Regions from separate parts of the Homo sapiens genome. Here region 1 is linked to region 2. The links come from fine-mapping of genetic effects on gene expression. A gene starts in region 2. The other region holds a variant in brackets. All regions are shown on one strand. Distances are between the middles of the regions.

Region 1 (5,372 bases), 45 kb after region 2:
CTTGTGATCCACCTGCCTCAGACTTCCACATTGCTGGGATTACAAGCTTGAGCCATCGCGCTTGCCTGTATTTTTTTTTTTTTTTATAGAAAATAGCTGGCCCTAACAGGCCAAGGGACAAACACAGGTATGAAAGAATGAAAGTTTGGAGCTGGAAAAAATGTCCAAGCTCTGATGGGTTTTGTCACTTGGGGTGAAGGGAATGTGAGATGGAGCCTGGGAGGGGTGAGGTCTGGAAGTCACTCACACCCATCACTCCTTTGTCCCCACAGGTCCTAGCTTACTCTGCCACCACTGCCCGGCAGGAGGAAGTTCCCCAGCAGACAGTGGCCCCACAGCAACAGAGGCACAGCTTCAAGGGGGAGGAGTGTCCAGCAGGTGCACTCTTATTTTTAAAAATCAGTTTATTTTTAATTGACAGATAAACATTGTATGTATTTATGATGTACACCATGATGTTTTGAAATATGTACGCATTGTGGAATGGCTAAATCAAGCTAATTCACATACTTAATCATGTATTCGTGGTAAGAACACTTAAAAATCTGCTCAGCAATTTTCAGCTGTATGGATACAGAGCCCTGGGATAAGCCCTCTTTGCCCTTTTTATCTGTGGGTTCTGTAGCCTTCCTTATCTATGGGTTCTGTATCCATGGTTGCAACAAACCACAGATCAAAAATATGCGGAAGAAATAAAAATGATAATACATCAATAAAAGCAGATAAAAAGCAATGCAGTATAGCACTTATTTACATAGCATGTCTATTGCATTAGGTATTACAAGTAATCTAGAGATGATTTAAAGCATATGTGCGTGGGTTTTATGCAATACTATCCCAATTTATATCAGGGACTTGAGTATATGCAGAGTTTGTTCCATGGAATATATTCCCTGTGGATAGAAGGCAGGACTGTACAACACATTGTTTTAATAACTGTAGTCGCCATGTCACACAATACATCTCTTGAATTTATTCTCCCTGTCTAACTGAAATTTTGTATCCTTTGACTAACATCTCCCCATCCCACCATCCAACTCAAGCCCTGGTAATCACCATTCTGCTCTCCACCTCTATGAGACCAACTTTTTCTGATTCCACATATGTGAGATCATGAGGTGTTTGCCTTTCTGTGCCTGGCTTATTTCACTTAGCATAGTATCCTCCAGCTTCATCCATGCTGACACAAATGACAGAACTCCCTTCTTTTTAAAGGCTGAATAGTATTCCATTGTATCTATGTGTCACATTTTCTTTAACTTTTCATCCATCCATGGACACGTAGGTTGATTCCATGTCTTGACCATTGTAAATAATGCTCCAATGCATATGGGAGGGAAGATATCTCTTCAATATACTGACGTCATTTCCTTTGGATGTATACCCAATAGTGGGATTGCTAGATCATATAGTTGTTCTATTTTTTGTTTTTTGAGGAACCTCCATACTGTTTTCCATAATGGCTGTACTAATTTCCATTCCCACCAACAGTGTACCAGCATTCCTTTTTCTCCCCATCATCAACACTTGTTACCTTTTGTCTTTTTGGTAATAGCCATTCTTACAGGTGTGAAGTGATATTTGGCACTTGATGGTTAGTGATGCTGAGCATTTTTTTCATATACTTTTTGGCCACTTCTATGTCTCCTTTTGAGAAGTGTCTATTCAGGTCCCACGCCCATGTATCCATTTTACTTGGATTATTTGATTGTGTGCTATTGAGATGTTTGAGTTCCTGTGTATTTTGGATTTTAACCAAAATCTTGGATCTTTTGAATATTGACCCTCATTCTGTAGGTTGTCTCTTCACTCTGTTCATTGTTTCCTTTGTCATGCAGAACCTTTTTAGTGTAATGTAACCTCATTTGTCTGTTTTTCCTTTTGTTGCCTGTGCTTTTGGGGTCATAGTCAAGAAACCATTGCCCAGACCAACATCATGAAAATTTTCCCCTATGTATTCTTGTGGTAGTTTTACCATTTCAGATCTTATGTTTTAATCTTTAGTCCATTTTGAATTAATTTTTACATATGATGTGAGATAAAGGTCTTATTTCATTCTTCTGCATGTCAATACCTACTTTTCTCAACACCATTTATTGAAGAGCTGTCCTTTCCCCATTTTGTGTTCTTGGTATCTTTCTCACAATCAATCAACTGTAAATGCATTGATTTATACCTGGGTTCACTATTTTGTTCCATCAGTTTATTTACCATTGTTGTGCCATTACCATTCAGTTTTGATTACTATACTTTTGTAACACGTTTTAAAATCAGGTAGTACGATGCCTCCATCTTTGTTCTTTTGTTTGTTTTGCTTAAGATCACTTTGGCTATTTGAGGTCTTTTGTAGTTCCATACAAATCTGGGCGTGGTGGTGCGTCGCCTATAATCCCAGCTACTCGGGAGGCTGAGGCAGAAAAATCGCTTGAACCAGGGAGTTGGAGGTTGCAGTGAGCCGAGATTGTGCCACTGCACTCCAGCCAGGTGACAGAGCAAGACTCTGTCTCAAAAAAAAAAAAAAAGACACATGAATATACATAACAGTCAGGATGTCCTGATGGGAACCATGAAGAATAGTTAAGTGACAGGAGATAGACAAGGTTGGTGGGGCCTCTCGGGGATGGTGATTTGGGCTGATATTTAAAGTTGGACAGGGCCAGTCTTGCAGAGAGCCAGGAAGAGTGCTCTTGAGAAGGCCCTGAAGGAATGAGAACCCCAGGTTTCGGGGGCTTGGGGAGACTGAGCGAAGACAGGGGGCCACTGTGGTGAGTGGACAGCAAACAGGTCAGGTGGACCAGCATGGGCAGATCACATGTACAGTAGGTTGGATGTTATTTTGTGAGTGACGGCGTAAAAAAAGTAAAATATCTCAATGATGTGTATTGATTACATGTTGAAATGTAGTATTTCAGATATTTTAGGTTAAAACTATATTGTTAAAATTAATTTGGCCTCATTCTTTTTACTATTTTAATATGGCTCTCATAGAATTTGAATTTTGCATAGAATTTGAATTTTGTATTATATTTCTGTCAGCAGTGCCAGTCAAAGGTATGTAATAGATGCTGAATGGATGACAAGACCAAGCCTGGAAGAGTGGATTTCTCTGTCTCAATTCCAGTGAGGGCCAAAAAAGAAGTTTCCCCACCACTGTCAGCCTCTGGGAATTCTGTGGTGACTCATTCATTGGCTTTTCTCTTCCTTCCCAGGATCTCATAGATCAGAACATACTGGAGCCTGTAACCC[G/A]TGCACAGAGGGTGTGGATTACACCAACGCTTCCAACAATGAACCTTCTTGCTTCCCATGTACAGTTTGTAAATCAGGTACAGAATGTGTGGACCTCTTGTCCAGAGGTGGAGCGTGGGGCAATGAGGTGGGAGTTGTAGCCGATATGAGTCAGGGAACCAAGTTCCAGCCCAACCTGGTCTTCATCACCCTGTTCTATGATTATATATTTGACTGATTAAAAAAATAGAAAGAAATCTTTTCTATAATGCATGCCACCTGGCTGGGAAATCGTCTAAACTGTCAGCTGCAAGAGGGTGGGGGGATCATTAGAGCATAGAGAAGGCCTGGCCCAGTGGACAGGGCTAGGTTTCAGTAGTGGCACGGGTCTGCTCCAGGGCCAGGCTCTCTCCCCCAGGCTCTGTGCTCCTGGCAGGTGCTCGGCCTCACTCAGCCTTCAGGTTCTCAGGCCCCTTCCTCCTCCCCAGCAGGCCCAGGCTTTGGGGAAGTCCCCCAAGGCCTCCGTCTCCTTGCAGAGTCTCTCAGGTGATGCCCTTGCACCTCCCTTGCTACTGACCATGCCATCTAAACAATGCTTTTCCCCTAATCTGATGTAATAAATAATGAATTATGCTCCTTTTTATGACTCCTCTGAGTGCTGGTGACAGCTGAAGGGTGGGTGTCCTGTATGAGCCCTGAGTGTGCTGGTGCAGAAACTGGCCCTTAGAACTCCTTGGTGAACTTGGTTGAGCTGAGTGGGAGGGGGTGGGTGGTAAGGAAGATCGAGGGATACATCAGGGAAACACATTCCCAAAACCTTATGCTCTGTTGTCAGATCAAAAACATAAAAGTTCCTGCACCATGACCAGAGACACAGTGTGTCAGTGTAAAGAAGGCACCTTCCGGAATGAAAACTCCCCAGAGATGTGCCGGAAGTGTAGCAGGTGAGACAGCAGTCAGGGGCTCCTGACAGCTTTCAGGAACCCGAGAAGACCTGAGTCACCTGGTACCCCTATTTCTCCGCTGACCCTATGGAGCCTCCAGACCCATGGGGTGTCCCTGAGCCTGTGGGGTCTCTTGGGTCTGCAGTGGCCGCTCCTGGTCCATCTGCCTGTCCCCACCCCTACCCCCTGCAGCAGCCCCTTCCCAGACCCTCCCCAGCACGAGTCCCCTTGGCCAGACCAACTTGTTCACTGGGCACAAGAAGCAACTTTCTGGATCCCTTGATCCTTTTCAGCAAACCTAGGAAATGCGATTTCCTTTTGAAATGAGAAGAAAACACTTGAATCCAGTCTGGGTTGTATTTGTTGCTATACCAAGCTGTTTTAAAAAATGTTCTTTTTAATATTTTTTATGCAGGCAGGACCCATAAAGACAAAAGTGGTCACGGCCGACAAAAGTCATAAGAAGGCTGTGGGTGGAGCTCCTTCAAGTTCCCATGAAGGCCTGAGCCAATCCAGCCGGCCTCACCCCTGGCCCCAATCCCTCAATAAGTCCTGTCTTTTCCCTATTTGGGCTTTAAGGGCCAAGAGTAATTTGTTCTTCTCTGGCCCCCTAATGTTTGCCGTGATAGGGAGGAACCAGCAGACAGTTGGGGGTGAGAGATCACTTGTACTGTGGGTTGACTGGAGGAAGGGGCTCAGCTTGTGGCCACAAGGGCTCGTGACCTTCCCCTGGAGTGTGGCTCCTCCTAACGCAGGCCTCCTCTGCAGCCCAGGGAAGCTCAGTGTGTGCCCGGCACAGAAGGCTCCTGTGGCCCCAGAGCAGGGAGGCTGAGGGGCTGAAATGCGCATGCTCAGACCCTTCCCCAGCCTCAACGAGGGAACTTGGGGGACCCCCTCCAGACAGGAGCCTGTCCTTCCCCTGACACCTTCTCAGGGACATTGGAGAGGGAGGGTGGCTCCCCTTTTATCCCACCTGGCTAGCTTTCCCTCAGGAGTCCTCACCTCCCTCTCTGTGTGTACCCAGGTGCCCTAGTGGGGAAGTCCAAGTCAGTAATTGTACGTCCTGGGATGATATCCAGTGTGTTGAAGAATTTGGTGCCAATGCCACTGTGGAAACCCCAGCTGCTGAAGAGACAATGAACACCAGCCCGGGGACTCCTGCCCCAGCTGCTGAAGAGACAATGAACACCAGCCCGGGGACTC
Region 2 (5,375 bases):
AGGTTAGATTCTGCAGAAGCAGATCAATGAACTTGAAGAGCCCTCACAGGGAAATGTCCAAAGTGAAACATAGAAAATGATGGGGGAAAAAAAAGAACAGATACTAAGTTAGCTCTGATACAAAATCTAACATTCTAACGTAAATATAATAAGATCTCAGTCACCAGAAGAGACAGAGTATTTGAAGAAATAATGGCTGAAAATCTTCCAAGTAGAACATAAACTCGGCTGGGCGTGGTGGCTCACCCCTGTAATCCCAGCATTTTGGGAGGCTGAGGCGGGCAGATCACGAGCCAGACCATCCTGGCTAACACGGTGAAACCCCGTCTCTACTAAAAATACAAAAAGTTCGCTGGGCGTGGTGGTGCATGCCTGTAGTCCCAGCTACACGGGATGCTGAGGCAGGAGAATGGCGTGAACCCAGGAGGCAGAGGTTGCAGTGAGCTGAGATCCCACCACTGCACTCCAGCCTAGGCGACAGAGGCAAGACTCCATCTCAAAACAAACAAACAAACAAACAAAAACATAAACTCTAAAACCCCAAATCCAAGAAATTCAACATAACTCTGTTGTGGCTTTCTTTCTTTCTTTTTTTTGAGTTGGAGTCTTGCTCTTGTCTCCCAGGCTGGAGTGCAGTGGCGCCATCTCTGCTCACTGCAACTTCTGCCTCCCAGGTTCAAGTGATTCTCCTGCCTCAACCTCCCAAGTAGCTGGGATTGCAGGTGCCCACCACCACACCCAGCTAATTTTGTATTTTTAGTAGAGACGGGGTTTCACCATGTTGGTCAGGCTGGTCTCGAATCCCTGACCTCATGTGATCTGCCCGCCTCGGCCTCCCAAAGTGCTGGGATTACAGGCATGAGCTACCAGACCCGGCTGTTGTGGCTTTCTTTACAGAAAAGTCTCCAAGGAGAACATAAACTCTAAAACCCCAAATCCAAGAAATTCAACACAACCCAGTTGTGGCTTTCTTTACAGAAAAATCTTCCAAGTAGAAAGAACATGAAAGTCTAAAGCCAAAAATCCAAAAAATTCTTTATAGAGATAAAAAAAAAACCCCACAACAGAGCAAACAAACCAAATCACTGCAAACCAGTGCTAAGAAAAATCTTTAAAAGCAGCCAGAGACCAAAGATCCACCACCCAAAGAGAGGCAAGATGCCCTGGGGACCTAGGCCCACAGAAACCACAGCAGGAGGGGGAGGCAGAGGCCCCTGTACACTCTCCTCACTAGGACAGTTAGGTCCTCCCTCCACTCAGAGGTGAGACCAAGGACATACTGTGGTGTGGGGCGGAAACAGTGAAAACATGAGGTGTGTAACAATATCCCATGAAACTCCAATGCTTCACACTGACATTCTTCTAGGTCAACACCAGCATTCTCTTGACCTTCCTTTCACTGTTCCTCCTCTCCCTTCCAGCCCCTCTGTACAGTCTTGAGTTAGGTCTAGGCCCACACACTTCCCCACTCTGAGCTGCGGTCTCTTCCTCTGTAAAATGTGATGATTCAGAACCTCTCCTGGCCCCAAGCGCAGTTCCAGGCGCTGAGCACACCATGCTGTTCCCTACAAAGCCGACTCTTTGTCCCTTCCCCATTATCACGGATACTTGCCAAGAGGTGGCAAGAAAGGCTCTTCCCAGGCCAAAATGCAGCTGCTATTATCAAGCAGGTCAGGCCCCAAGTGCCACAACTCCCTTCTCCTAAATCTCGTTTTCCCAAGGAACCCCAAACAATGGCATTGGCGATGAGCGGCCCCGCACGCGTAGGGGCGCAGCCGCTAAGGAGGGGAAGGGGCCTCTCCAGCTGCGCCCGCGACGACTCCCGCGCACGGAACGGAACCACTGGGCCGCAGCGACCACAGGGGAGTTCTTCGCCGGCCGCAGGTTCAAAGCGATCTGCAATGAGCGCCTTTAGGAATTCATTCGAAGGCGCAAAAGAAAAAGAAATTAAGGCAGGAACTGAGCGAGGAAGGAAGGGAGGGAAAGAAAGGAAGAAAGAGAAAAAGAGAAAGAAACAGAAAGTAAGGAAAGAAAACAAAATCAAAGTCCGACGACCTCTCCGTGGCTTCACGCAGCTTACTCGGGAATTCCCTCCTTGTCGCCCTCCCCCACTGGATTCGGGAATTTACACCAAGTGGAGCGCGCGCTCTGTTCCCTGGCGGCCCAGGTCGCTCCTGCCCAACCCGGGGACCCATCTCTTCCCCCGACTCCGACGACTGGTGCGTCTTGCCCGGACATGCCCGGCCGCAGGCGACCCGGGCCACGCACCCCCGCCGTGTCCCCCTCTCTCCCTGCCCTCTCCAGGCGCCAGGCACGCTCTTCCCCAGCCAGGGACCGCGGCGGGGACTCACCAACAGCAGGACCGCGGCGACAACGAGCACAAGGGTCTTGGGGACCCGGGGCCCAGGCCTGGCTCCCCGCGCCTCCCTGGGTCCTGGGCCGTGCCTTTTCCGGGCCCCCGAAGCGGCCGGGGCGTTCTGTCCCCGTTGTTCCATGGCGGTAGGGAACGCTCTTATAGTCTCTCAGGCCCGTGGGTTTCAGCCCTTAAAGTAGATCGGGCATCGTCGGTGTATTTTGTGGGCGCAGAGATTGCGGGGTTCTCCGGCCGCGTGCTGATTTATGTGTCCAGGCTGACTTGGGGCGGCGCGGCTGTACTTTCACTGCCTCCGGGCAGGCGTCATTCGGGGCGGGGCGAATCAGATCCAATGTGCAACTGCAAATTCCACCACAGGTTGGTGACAATAAATAAGAGTCTCGTCAACGCAATCCTCCGCAAGCGCGTCCAAGTGGGGAGGGGAGGGGAAGGGACCGGAACTAACCTTCGCCCTGGCGGCTGCGCCCCGGGCTGTGGTTTGTTTCTGGGTCCTGTCCGCGCCAGGACAGGCACCGAAACTTGGGGGAAATGAGTTGAGGGAGGCACTTGGGGAGTTGACGCCTCCCGGGGTCGCGCGCTTGGCTGTGAACAGGGTCTTGAGGTTCAGAGTCCGCTTTCCAGGCGCGTCTTGATCTTCTCCCCTTCCCAGGGGCACCTGCCCCTTCTGTTCTCTCCTTCTCTCTTCTTTCCTTTTTTCTTTCGTTTTCTTTCGTTCTTTCGTCTTCTTTCCGTCCTTCCTGCTTTCTCTTTCCTTCCTTTCTCTCTTTCTCTTTCCTCCCTCCCTCCCCCTCCCCCTACCTCCCTTCCTTGTGGTTTATTTTTTGAGACAGTCTCTCTGTGGCTCAGATTGGTGAGCGGTGGTGTGATCCCGGCTCACTGCAACTTCCGTCTCCCAGGTTCAAGCGATACTCCCACCTCAGCCTCCCATGTAGCTGGGACTACAGGCCTGCACCACCACGCCTGGCTAATTTTTGTATTTTTAGTAGACACAGGGGTTCACTATGTTGGCCAAAAGACCATCGAACCCAGCTTACACTCACACCTAGTCCACAAATGTGCCTGTGTCCCTGCACCCTTGCTACACTTAGCTTTCATTTGTCACTAGTCTAGGAAATAAAACATGATACATCACATTGTTATGTATTTTCATTCCTTCATGGTACTGTGTCCGGAATTGGTGGGTTCTTGGTCTCACTGCCTTCAAGAATGAAGCCTCGGACCCTCGCGGTGAGTGTTACAGTTCTTAAAGGCGGCGTGTCTGGAGTTTGTTCCTTCTGATGTTCGGATGTGTTCGGAGTTTCTTCCTTCTGGTGGGTTCGTGGTCTCACTGGCTCAGGAGTGAAGCTGCAGACCTTCCCAGTGAGTGTTACAGCTCTTAAGGCAGTGGGTCTGGAGTTGTTCTTTCCTCCTGGTGGGCTCGTGGTCTCGCTGGCTTCAAGAGTGAAGCTGCAGACCTTCAAGGTGAGTGTTACAGCTCATAAAGGCAGTGTGGACCCAAAGAGTGAGCAGTAGCAAGATTTATTGCAGAGGGAAAGAAGGAAGCTTCCACAGTGTTACCACTGCTGGCTCTGGCAGCCTGCTTTTATTCTCTTATCTGGCCCCACCCACACCCTGCTGATTGGTAGAGCGGAGTGGTCTGTTTTGACAGGGCGCTGATTGGTGGTTTACAATCCCTGAGCTAGACACAAATGTTCTCCACTTCCCCACCAGATTAGCTAGATACAGAGTGTGGACACAAAGGTTCTCCAAGGCCCCACCAGACTAGCTAGATACAGAGTGTCAATTGGTGCATTCACAAACCCTGAGCTAGACACACGGTGCTGATTGGTGTGTTTACAAAACTTGAGCTAGATACACAGTGCCAATTGGTGTATTTACAATCCCTTAGCTAAACATAAAGGTTCTCCACGTCCCCACCAGACTCAGGAGCCCAGGTGTCGTCACCCAGTGGATCCCGCACCGGGGTTGCAGGTGGAGCTGCCTGCCAGTCCCGCGCCGTGCTCCCGCGCCGTGCGCCCGCACTCCTCAGCCCTTGGGTGGTCGATGGGACTGGGCGCCCTGGAGCAGGGGGAGGTGCTCGTCGGGGAGGCTCCGGCTGCACAGGAGCCCACGGAGGGGGTGAGAGGCTCAGGCATGGCGGTCCCGAGCCCTGCCCGTCGGGAAGGCAGCTAAGGCCCGGCGAGAAATCAAGCGCAGCGCCAGTGGGCCGGCACTGCTGGGGGACCCAGTACACCCTCCGCAGCCGCTGGCCCGGGTGCTAAACCCCTCATTGCCCGGGGCCGGCAGGGCCGGCCGGCTGCTCCGAGTGCAGGGCCCGCCGAGCCCACGCCCACCCGGAACTCCAGCTGGCCCGCAAGTGCCGCGCGCGCAGCCCCGGTTCCCGCTCGCGCCTCTCCCTCCACACCTCCGTGCAAGCTGAGGGAGCGGGCTCCAGCCTTGGCCAGCCCAGAAAAGGGCTCCCACAGTGCAGCGGTGGGCTGAAGGGCTCCTCAAGTGCCGCCAAAGTGGGAGCCCAGGCAGAGGAGGCGCCGAGAGCGAGCGAGGGCTGTTGAGGACTGCCAGCAAGCTGTCACCTCTCAGTACTACGGATTTTCAAGAATACAGGAGTTTTTGGTACTGGGAGTAGATGACTGGGGGGATCCAGGCAAGACTACAGGGGAGGGCGGCAGAGAAGACTTAATTCCCAGCTGTGTACTTGGAAAACCGTGCTCAGCTGGGGCCAGTCCCTGCCAACCGCCATGCCTGTTAATGGAAATAAGGTCTCCATCCTCAGGCTGTCAGGGTGACTTCAGATGAGCCTGGAGCTGAGCTCAGTTCCGGACCCCAGGTCCTGGCTCTGTCAATGCCGGACTGGTCCAATCTCTATGCCAGGTCCTTCCAACCCCATCCCTCTCTTTATCAAAGTAGGAATCAAGAAGATCCGAAGGCTCAGGCTCTCAGGTTGTTAGAGAGTACTGAAATTGGAGGCTGTGGATGGCTGGGCCCTGCCGTGCTCCCGGTC

Direction of the effects. Positions count from the first base shown, and alleles are read on the strand shown. Sizes are in standard deviations (SD) of each study's normalised expression.
With allele G in place of A in region 1, the expression in T cells of the gene that starts at base 2,632 in region 2 is higher (large effect, 1.4 SD a copy in GENCORD).

What was found.
Region 1: its variant is fine-mapped to the expression of TNFRSF10B in T cells (GENCORD, PIP 0.95).

Annotation. Positions count from the first base shown.
Region 1 is chr8:23,111,448-23,116,819 of GRCh38, forward strand. TNFRSF10C (TNF receptor superfamily member 10c) reads left to right here. Exons shown (of 5, transcript NM_003841.5): 2 at 273-378; 3 at 3,210-3,323; 4 at 4,061-4,169; 5 at 5,194-5,372. Among named protein-coding and RNA genes, the nearest start is that of TNFRSF10C, 11 kb to the left of the region's middle. The variant G/A (reference allele first, on the strand shown) is at 3,247.
Region 2 is chr8:23,066,400-23,071,774 of GRCh38, forward strand. It overlaps TNFRSF10B (TNF receptor superfamily member 10b), which reads right to left and starts at 2,632. Exons shown (of 9, transcript NM_003842.5): 1 at 2,352-2,632. The coding sequence starts at 2,495. It also overlaps the pseudogene TNFRSF10B-AS1. RefSeq lists promoters at 11-3,724, 2,492-3,162, enhancers at 2,016-2,275, 2,816-2,865, 2,886-3,055, 3,837-4,131, 4,453-4,952 and a cis regulatory region at 2,617-2,622.